2 separate regions of the Homo sapiens genome follow, and region 1 is linked to region 2. The links come from fine-mapping of genetic effects on plasma protein levels. A gene starts in region 2. The other region holds a variant in brackets. All regions are shown on one strand. Distances are from middle to middle.

The links. PIP is the chance, under the fine-mapping model, that this variant and not a neighbour inherited with it causes the effect. Protein levels are from antibody-based Olink assays in UK Biobank. Linkage for the fine-mapping came from a reference panel and not from the study's own genotypes, which makes the PIPs less certain.
Region 1: its variant is fine-mapped to the plasma level of the PKD2 protein (UK Biobank, PIP 0.91).

The regions. Positions count from the first base shown.
Region 1 is chr4:88,048,976-88,053,975 of GRCh38, reverse strand. PKD2 (polycystin 2, transient receptor potential cation channel) reads right to left here. Exons shown (of 15, transcript NM_000297.4): 7 at 1,818-1,985. Among named protein-coding and RNA genes, the nearest start is that of PKD2, 44 kb to the right of the region's middle. The variant A/G (reference allele first, on the strand shown) is at 2,122.
Region 2 is chr4:88,004,466-88,009,925 of GRCh38, reverse strand. PKD2 (polycystin 2, transient receptor potential cation channel) reads right to left here and starts at 2,291. Exons shown (of 15, transcript NM_000297.4): 1 at 1,598-2,291. The coding sequence starts at 2,192. RefSeq lists silencers at 1,409-1,548, 1,599-2,528.

The DNA of each region.
Region 1 (5,000 bases), 44 kb before region 2:
GTGGATATCTAAATTCAAATTTAAATTAAGTAAGATTAAATACAATTAAAAATTCAGTCCCTTGGTCCTACTAGCCACATGTTAAGTGTTCCATGCCTATACATGGTTAGTGGCTACTGTCTAGGACAATGAAAATATAGAACATTTCCATCACCACAGAACATTCTTATTACTATTATTATTTTTGCTGTTTGATTATTATTACTATGTTATGATCAAGGTTTTGTGCTTTAGTGATGGTTTCTCTTGAACAAGCATGTCAATAAATAAATAGCATGAGAAATACAGGATAAAGTCTATGCATTTTTTTTTTTTTTTTGAGACAGGGTCTCACTCTGTTGCCCAGGCTGGAGTGCAGCGGTGCGATCTTGGCTCACTGCACCCTCCGCCTTCTGGATTCAAGCAATCCTCCCGCCTAAGCCTCCTAAGTAGCTAGGACTACAGGCACGTGCCACCACCCCCAGCTAATTTTTGTATTTTTAGTAGAGATGAGGTTTTGCCATGTTGCCCAGGCTGGTATCAGACTCCTGGGCTCAGGGGACCTATCTCGGCCTCCCAAAATGCTGGAATTACAGGCATGAGCCACTGCGCCTGGTCCAAGTCTATGTCTTGTGATAAACCTCAGGTCTTCTAGGTATGAATACCAACTCAGAAAAGTACATAACGGGTAAGTACCTTCCAGAACAGTGCTTTTCAAGAGAACGTTCTGTGATGATGGAAATGTTCTACATTTCCACTGTCCTAGACAGTAGCCATTGAACACTTAATGTGTGGCCAGTAGGACCAAGGAACTGCGTTTTTAATTGTATTTAAGCTTAACTAATTTAAATTTGAATTTAAATAGGCACATGTGGCTAGTACTTACTGTCTGGACAGCACAATCAGAGCCTGTGCTGGTGACCGAATGGCAGCTGCTGCCTGAGAATTATTGAAATTTCCTGCATCTCCAGAATTGAGGCTTGTTGTATATGAAATGTCATAACCTTTCACACACATGGAAATGCACATTATATCTTGGGACAATAAGGAAAATAGTGAGCAAGGAACTATTTGGAAGCAGTGTCTGTTCCAACCTTAATTCTAGGTAAAGCTTCCCTTACAGCCTCTACCTGGAAAAGAGGCGATCCCTTCTAGCAAGCATTTCCAAGTGCAGCAACTCTCCCCTTCCCTCCACCTGCTCCTTCCCTCTCTTTCTCTAAGTTCCTTTTCCTTCACCTGTTCATCTCATCTGTTAGCAGCCTGGGGCCCCAGGCCCAGCTAACACACTGAAAGGCCTCTTACTGCATTTGTTAAACAAAACCTATAGGGACTGATCTTGCACTAATTCAGATAGCAGAAGTATGTCATTGACAGTGAGAGGAATGATCACATGAGTCTCAATAGTTTACTTTATATGTAAAATATGAGGCCTGGCACGGTGGCTCATGCCTGTAATCCCAGCACTTTGGGAGGCTGAGGTGGGAGGATTGCTTGAACCCAGGAGTTCAAAACCAGCCTGGGCAACATAATGAGACCTTGTCTCTACGAAAAAATTTAAAAATTAGCCGGGTATGGTGGCACATGCCTGTAGTCCCAGTGACTTCGGAGGATAAGGTGGGAGGATCGCTTGGGCCTGGGAAGTCGAGGCTGCAATGAGCTGTAATCATACCACTGCACTCCAGCCTGGGTGACAGAGTGAGACCCTGTCTCAAAGTAAATATTGAGCAGCTTTGGCTGGTCACTTGAATTTCAAATTCAAGTATTCCATGATTTTGTGGAACTCATTTTTTTTAAAGAAAATATTATTTAAAATGTAGAACATGAAATTTATAAATTACCTTAATCCAGACAAAAAATACTGTGACAGCAGCTATATTGTTGAACTGTATCTGCCAATATGCCAGATGCTCAAAGTTGGGGAAAGTATTTTGATCTTCCAGAAACTGTAGTAGCACCTCCACATTTGATGTTCTGTATATGTTAATTCCTATAGCTACCACTGACAGCTGAAAAGCAAAATATTTATATTTTATTACAGTGTTTTAGAAATATGAAACTTACCTTAATATGACTAGTATATTTTTCTTCACCAATGTATTAATTATAAGGGCTCACCATTATACTTACCCGATGTCATTCTTA[A/G]AAGTCACTCACTCAAATGGAAAGTGTTAAGCCCTGCCATAAAATAAGTAAAACAGTATATTGCTTGCATTTCCTTAGTTCGGAATAGAAACTCAACGAAGGCATGCATGCATGTGTGTGCACATATACATTACACACACATACATGCATACACAGAAGAGATCACACTATAACAGACTCAAACTCAAAGAGGAATGCTTTCTGTTTTTTCTGCCACCTTCATTTTAATCACTTTCCACCCTTTTGCTTTCTTGCCTTCATCCTGCTGTTTTTATTTGTGATTTTTAAATTTAAAATTTTTCGGTTTCTCTGCATTCTCCAATTGCCAGCCATTCTTTGCTCTGTTTAACAAAAATATAGTAGATGTCTATGTATACAGCACTGTGCAAGGGCTAAGAGGAATAAACAGAAGTAAACTGCATAAATCCTGCCCTCGAGACTCAAGAGCAGATAAACACATGAAGTTAAATAATACAAAAAACTACTAAAGAGTTGGTATCACACAACATAAAGTCAAGAGGGACAAAAGATATCCTAAAAATGAGTGCCCATGAGAACAAAGCATGAGCTTGGGCTTGAAAGACAGTGGGAATGATGAATACAGAGGGCTCAAGAAGGCCTGCAGTGGGAATATATGAGCCAAGGGCTTCTCTCTTGCTCATTTCTGTCCCTTAACTCATGACCCTACAACTTTCCACATATGCTTTGGTTCTAAGCTTTACAATCAGATCCAAGGGGACACTGCCCCCTCCTTGGCATCCATCACCACTAAATGTAGACAGTGCTAGGGGTTAGTCATAACAACCTGGCCCCACCAGGGGGTCTGAATCTGCAGCAGGTGGGCTGTGGCAGGTGCTGCGATCTTTGCTGTCCATTCTCTCTTCTTAGGAATCATGGCCAGAGACCACTTCATTAGCCCTCCCTTCCTGAGATGACCATAGAGATCATGGTCCCACTGATTCTCATAGCAAAGACCAGCTTGGTTGCTGATCACAGCTAAAAAGCCAACCTCACCATCTTCCTTTCCTTCCTTCTCTGTGAAGGATTTCCAGAGCCAATCTTGTATTTTTGTGTTGGTGGTGGGAATGATGAACACAGCAGACTCAAGAAGGCCTGCAGTGGGAATAGGCTTCTCCTGAGATGAGGAGCTCATCTCAGCTAATACATGTAGAAAAACATTTGGGTTGGTGGACTGGATCCAATGGTAACTCTTTACCCAACTCTCAATAGGTATAATTTGTTATGCAGTCCAGTTGTTTTTACTCTGCACAGGACAAATGTTTATAAAATAATGAAGAAGATGGTCATTTATACAACATCAATGTCTTTGAAACCTTTCCTTCCAAATAGGGAATGAAAGATGAGGAAAGAGATTTTGTGAGCATTTGCATTGTTACATCACTCCTGAGTTTTCTGTGGGATTCTCATCCCTATCTACAAAAGAACTTTCTCTCCATACCAGAAAATTGGGAGGGCAGAGATTTGGGTGATTTTGTTCATTCCTGTATCCCCAGTGCCTAGAACAGTGGCAAGTACATAGTAGGTGCTCAGAAAACACTCGCTGAATAAATGAATTAGTCGGGCCAGGCGCGGTGGTTCACGCCTGTAATCCCAGCACTTTGGGAGGCTGAGGTGGGCGGATCACGAGGTCAGGAGATCGAGACCATCCTGGCTAACTCGGTGAAACCCTGTCTCTACTAAAAATACAAAAAATTAGCTGGGCATGGTGGCAGGCACCTGTAGTCCCAGCTACTCAGGAGGCTGAGGAGGGAGAATGGCGTGAACCCGGGAGGCAGAGCTTGCAGTGAGCCGAGATGGTGCCACTGTACTCCAGTCTGGGTGACAGAGCAAGACTCCATCTCAAAAAAAAAAAAAAAAAAAAAAATTTACCCTGTACAACCTAGCAAGTGGTCAATAAATTATTTGAGTTTAAATTCCTTAATAGTCTTCTTTTTTTCAAGTAATTCTTCTAGTTTTGAAAGACTATTGCTCAGGACAAATGGCTGACTGATGCAGCCTGTGTACTTCAGAACATATGTTGGGGAAAGAAAAAAGGAAAATAAAGAAAATTTCAAAGTGATTTCAAGATGTGATTGTATTTATATTAAGAATATAATTTCTTTTCAGGTTTTGGGTAAGCATAAGCAAATTTTGGCTAGATAAAACAAAAAGCGTTGGGTCTTTCCACTGGTTTGAAGGTCCAGTGGAGCACAGGGTGTGTTTTGTGGGTGAGCAGAAGGCATGCCCTCACTTCTACACTTGGTCAGCAAAAGTTTCAAAGGACAAGTGAGATTCCAGTAGCCCTTCCTTGTTCTTTATAAACAAAAAGCACACTGTCTGAATTGTTGTCTGGCAGTATTAAGTGTTGTTTAAAAAAAAAATTGAAAAACACAGTGAAGCAAGTTTTCAAAGAAACACTTGCAAAATGCTGTGGCTGTTGAGCCAAAGAGACAATTTCCATGATATCATTGCCTTTCTTCCTATTGGTCGCCAAAGCAGGTGCAAGGCAATTCACTGGGCTATGGGAAGAAAATGTTACAACTTCTAGGTAGGTGGTAAGAAAGTTTTGGAATTCTATTTGTATTAACTTTTATTCCAATCTTTAAAATTCTATGTATGTGTATGTTTTACGGATGTACCTGTTACACCAAAGTAGGCACACAATTTACAAATAAAGATAATAAATTAGGGTGTGTAGTAGTCAAAGCTTTCACTGATAGGTGTGTATGATCAAAAAGGGTGAATACCACTGACTAGTCTTTTGTTGATATTGAGTTCTTTGGTTAAAATATAAAAAGGAAGTCTGTTCTTAATTAGCATATCATACTTACCTTTCTACCATTATTTCAATGGCCTAAACATAAATAAATCCATATAAG
Region 2 (5,460 bases):
TATTGAGTTTATTCAAACAAGGTTAGGGGTGTTATCAAATGCTTAAACTGAGTTAAAAGGATCATGCAACTTACCATTATTTATTAACTTAAAAGGAACTTCTCTCTCACTTCAGTGAATATTTTTTAAATGCACATTTTAAATGGTGTAAAATAACATAATTAATCCAGTTTTGAATCTTAAAAAGTGTTAGTGTTTTATTAATTTACTCACACAGGTTATCCGAAAAGGATCTTCTGTTCCCCATCATGCTTTTAATAAAATTAACTAGTATAAGAATCTCCATAAACGAAGTACCAAAATGTTTACATTTATATTTCTGAAGCGCTAATAACATGACAAATACATGCTGCACATTTTATGTCTTAACTCACTTAATTCTCCCAAAGAGTCAAGTCCTAAGCGTTATGATCATCTCTTTAAAAAAAAAAAAAATCCAAAAATTGGGTATCAGAGAGGATAAGTAACTTGCTCAAGGTCGTACAGCTAATGAGTGGTGGAACTGGGATTTCAGTGTAGGCCTGACCTGGTTTTAATCACACTGCTGTAACAACACCTGGATTGTTTTTGTGCAAGACTTTCAAAACTGACAGAAGGAGAAGAACAAGAAAAACTCAACTGAGAATGGAAACTCTTAAAAATATAGATTAAAATAATTTGGAGGGTAAAAGCAAATGAAATACTTTCCCAAGGATACCTCTGACAAAATTTGTAAAAAGAGAATTTCCTCTGGTACTAGAAAATTCATGTCCTCTTACTGGGCACTGGCAAATTTGAAAATTCCTCTTCTGCCTTTTGTAGAGCTGGGCGCACTGGGCTCAGACACATTTATCAGCTGCTATCTGGTGACTTCATCATTTTGGTGGAATTTCAAAGAACATTAATTTAGTTATTTAAAAACATACTTCAAATTTTTTTAAAACAATGTAATCTTTCCTTTGCAACTGTTTTTAGAAAAATGTCTAGAATTAGAAACGGCCAAATAACTTCACGATATTATTTTATTCTATTTGTGGTGTTCTTAACAGCTCCCACTCCTCAAAACAACCACACACATCACCAAAAAAATGCACCAATGACAATCTGCCACACTCCTCCCACAACTTGACATTATATGCACTGTACTGCTACCCTTTTCAGCCCGGGACAATGGAGTGTCCAGGCAAGAAGGAAACCACGGGTGACTATAACATTTTCCTTTAGATTTTGTGACATTGGCAAATATGCAGTTGCAACTACCATCAGTTACACAAGTAATGTTCATTTTTTCCTCTACAAGAAAAAAAAAAACAAAACCCAGATGTACTCTTTCACTCTAATTAGGCTTTCACTAATTTTCAGTAAAAAAGACTATGGTGACATATCCTGAAGAAGGAGGTATCCAATAAATATGCACCAACAAAAGAGCAGTGGAATTCCGCGCTGGGTACCGGAAATAGGGCAGCACTAGCGGAGGTGGGGAATGCGCTTCCAAGGGAGGCGGAACGCAGAGGGGATGCGAGATGGAGCCCGGGGAGCTGCCGCAGCGGGCGATGGCCCCGGCCGGCGCCGGCCGTTCTGGTTCGTGCATCTGCCGCTGCGGGTCGCGCGCTCTTACCTCGCAGCCCGCGAACCAGCCTCTCCGCCCAGGCCACTCGGGGCGGCTGCCCTTCCAGGGGGAGGTGGCGATGCAGCGGGTCCCCGCCGCCGACTGGGCTGGGGCACGGCGGGCCCTGGTCCTCTCGCCGGCGCCGCCTCCCGCTCGGGTGGCCCGCGCCGTGGTAGCCCCCAAGCCCCCGGCTCCGCGCGCCCACGGAGCTCACGGCCGAGGAGGCGGCCGACCTCCGGCTGCCCGGGCGCCACTCTACGTCCATCTCCACCACCATTCCGCCTTCTTCCCCTTCCACCTCCTCCTCCTCCTCCTCGGCCTCGAAGCCGGGGTTATCGCGGCTCCACGCCTGCCGGGAGCACGACGAGAGCGGAGGAGAAGGGGAGGCCGCGGCTCCGGCCGGGGGGTCCCGCGCGGCCGCCTGCCGGATGCGCTGCATCTCGATCTCCAGGCCCCGCTGCTCGCAGAGGCCGCCCGGGGCGGCGAGGCTGGCGCCCACGGCCGCGCAGCCAGCCATCAGCCGGCCCGGGTCCGGCGCGCGGGGCGCGGGCGGCCGCTTGGCGTCCCCGGGCTGCTGAGGCTGCACGCGACTGGAGTTCACCATCGCGGTCACTGGCGTCCGGCGCGCGGGTGCGCGGCGCCGCGCTCGGCGCTGTGCGCCTCAGGAGCCATGTTCCTTTCTTCCCGGCGCCCGCCGCCGCCTGCTCCCCGCCCCCGACCTCCCCGCGGTCCCGCGTCCTCTCGCCCGCCCCTTTGGCCCGCCTCCCTCTGGCCTCGCCCCGCCTCGCCCATCCGCCGCGGCGCGCTGAGCGGGGAGGTGCGAGGGAGCCGCCCCCGCGGTCTGCGCGCTCGCCCGGCGGCTCCCGAGTCCGCGTTCCAAGTGGAACCGGAGCCCGGGCGCGGGCGCCCACGTTCCATTCCCGGGAAGGCCTGGGAAGGGAGGGAATCGCTCACCCGCCAGCCCGCCTGCAGGGAAAGGGCTCCTGGAGCTGTCGATGCCTGCCCGACGCTGAGATAACTCTTGGGTCCCAGTTATCCACCAGCCACTTCTGCCTCGATTCACCAAAGGGCAGGGAAAGAACCTTTTGGTGAGATGGTGTGAATTAGCGACATCCAGCCTGAGCTGAAGTCTCCAGCGGGTCAAAGAAATCTTTCCATTTGCAAACTACCAAGGCTGACTTGCTGTGCATTTGGCGGGCCTCCTGCCCCTGATTCTGCTGGTTTGGAGATGCTTTCTCGCTCTTTGGTTGGCTTCTGTCTCCACACATTGTGGGGATCCCAGGGATTCGTCATAGGACTCTCGGATCGCTGGTGCCTCCACTGTGATCTCCGGTCTCCCTGCGGCCAGCACTGACTTCTAGCAACAGAATCCTGCATGAGGGCCTAGGCACAGAACTTTATTTCCACTCTTCTGAACACATCTAATGTGATGCTCTGCAATTGTCTGAAATTTATCCTACCCTAAGTCATTATCTTGTCCCCTTCTCTGGAACCTGCTTCACTTCCCGTATCCCAAGGTGAGGTTTGGGGCTTCGCTGTCCTCCTCACTTCCCAGGCCACTCTTCTTCATGGAAGCCTCGCGGTTTACCCTCCACCGCCTACACCTTATCTTCTTGTTACTTTTGCCCCACAGATATCACCCTGATATGATCTCTGTTTCTCACTCCTGCTGGCTTGATCTTATGTCTTGCATTATTCCGCATTAGAACAATTGATCCCTGTCAACTCCCATCTCTATTCTCCACGTCGGTGTCCTCACTATTTCCAGGTTATATTGCAGAACCAAAGCTGCTTATTTGTCACGTTGATGCTTAGACACCTCTGTGGGCTTCTGGCAGCTGAAAGGATAAAATTTAATTTCTGTGGTTTGGTTTAGTAAATTCTCATAATCTGCTCCTGTATTTGTTTGTTAGGGCTGCCATAACAAAGTACCAGAGACTGGGTGGCTTAACAGAAATTTATTTGCTCACCTTGTCTCTACAAAAAATACAAAAATTAGCCAGGCTTTGCGGTGTGTGCCTTTGGTCCCAGCTATTAGGGACGCTGAGGTGGGAGGATCGCTTGAGCCCGGGAGGCAGAGGATGTAGTGAGCCAAGATCGGGCCACTGCACTCCAAGTGACAGAGTGAGACTCTGTCTCATAAAGAAAGAAAGAGAGAGAGAGAAGAAAGAAAAAAAGAAGGAAGGAAGGAAAAAGAAAAGAAAAATTGTATTTTCTCACGAGGTGTTGGCAGAGTTGGTTTCTTCTGAGGCCTCTCTCCTTGGCTTGCAGATGGCCCCGCTTTTGTGTCCTCACGCCGTCTTCCCTCTTCCCTCTGTATGCGTCTGTGTCCTAATTGTCTATTCTTATACATCATATTGGATTAGGGCCTACCCTCATGACCTTGTTTTCACTTCATTACTTCTGTAAAGACCCTGTCTCCAAGTATGGTCATGTTCTGAGGTAATGGGGGTTAGGACTTCAACACAGAAATTTTTGGGGGGACACAATTTAGCTTTAACAGCTCTTAATGTACTCCTCTAGCATGGCATCCCATGCCATCCATCCACCTTAATGAATTATTCATTTGTTCTCTAGGCACATATAACATGCTGCTAATATTTAGGTAATTATGGCTACCTATTACCTGATCCTGCAGTTTATTAATTTAGATATTCATGTTCTTCTCTTAACTGTGAGCTTCTCAAAGGCAAGACTGGTGGGTCTGGAGCACAGCCCTAGCTCATGCTATTCATCAGTTCATTCTGAAGACATTTCCTGTGCCCTGAATTAAGGTCTGGGCATGTAGAGAGGAGTATGATACAGCCTTGGCCCTCAAGAGGAGACAGACCAAAAATGAGAGATTACCAAGTGGGTTAAGGGTTATGGTGCCTGTCATCCAAGGAACTTCTGAAGCTGAAGATGTCCTGAATAGCACCAGCAGCACTGCAGAGTCGAAGGATTCTTACAGACACATTCCAACAGAGGAGAGCCAGGCCTGGAAAGAGAATGCAGAATCTGAGCCAAAGGGTCCTCTGGAGAATAGGCCTAGTACAATGTTTTCAAATTGTGATCAGAAGATCTCCAGCATCACTTGCAGCTCTTGCTAAAAATATAGATACTGGGTCCACATTCCAACCTTATTGACTCAAAATCTTCCGGATTCCAGTCCTGAAATTCTGAATCTTCACAGGGGATTCTCAGGCATCCAAAGTTTGAGAAGCACCAATGTGTTCCAAATGGAAGAGGTTTCATAAATATTTCCCCCACATTTCTATACTTCACTGTTAGCACTAGTGAGACAATCATCTGGAATCCCAGACTTAGAAGAAAATTCAGTGGTCTTTGAGTCAGGTTACTCTATGCTTGTGCCTGCAGTCACTAATTCGTTGTAAGGACCCTGGAGCCAGACTGCCTGGATTCTGATTTACTCACTACTTCCTAGCTGTGTGACCTTGGGAAAGTCACTTTATCTCCTTGTACCACCAAAGATGAGGATAATGATAATGCCTACCTCATAGGGTTGTTGTGAGGATTAGGTGAATTAATACATGTGTTTTAGTCCATTCGGGCTGCTATAAAAAATATCATGTAGTGGGTGGCTTATAAACGATGAACCTTTATTTCTTACAGTTCTGGAAGCTGGACGGTCCAAGATCATGCTGCCAGCAGATTTGTGGTCTGGTGAGGGTCTACTTTCTGGTTCATAGACTGCACCTCCTAGCTGTGTCTTATGGTAGAAGGGGCAAAAGAGCTCCCTTGAGCTGCTTCTCTAAGGGCACTAATCCCATTTGTGAGGGCTCCAGCCCCATGATGTAATCACCTCTCAGAGGCCCCAGCTCCTTATACCATCACTTTGAAGGTTAGGATTTCAATGTATGAATTATGGGGGG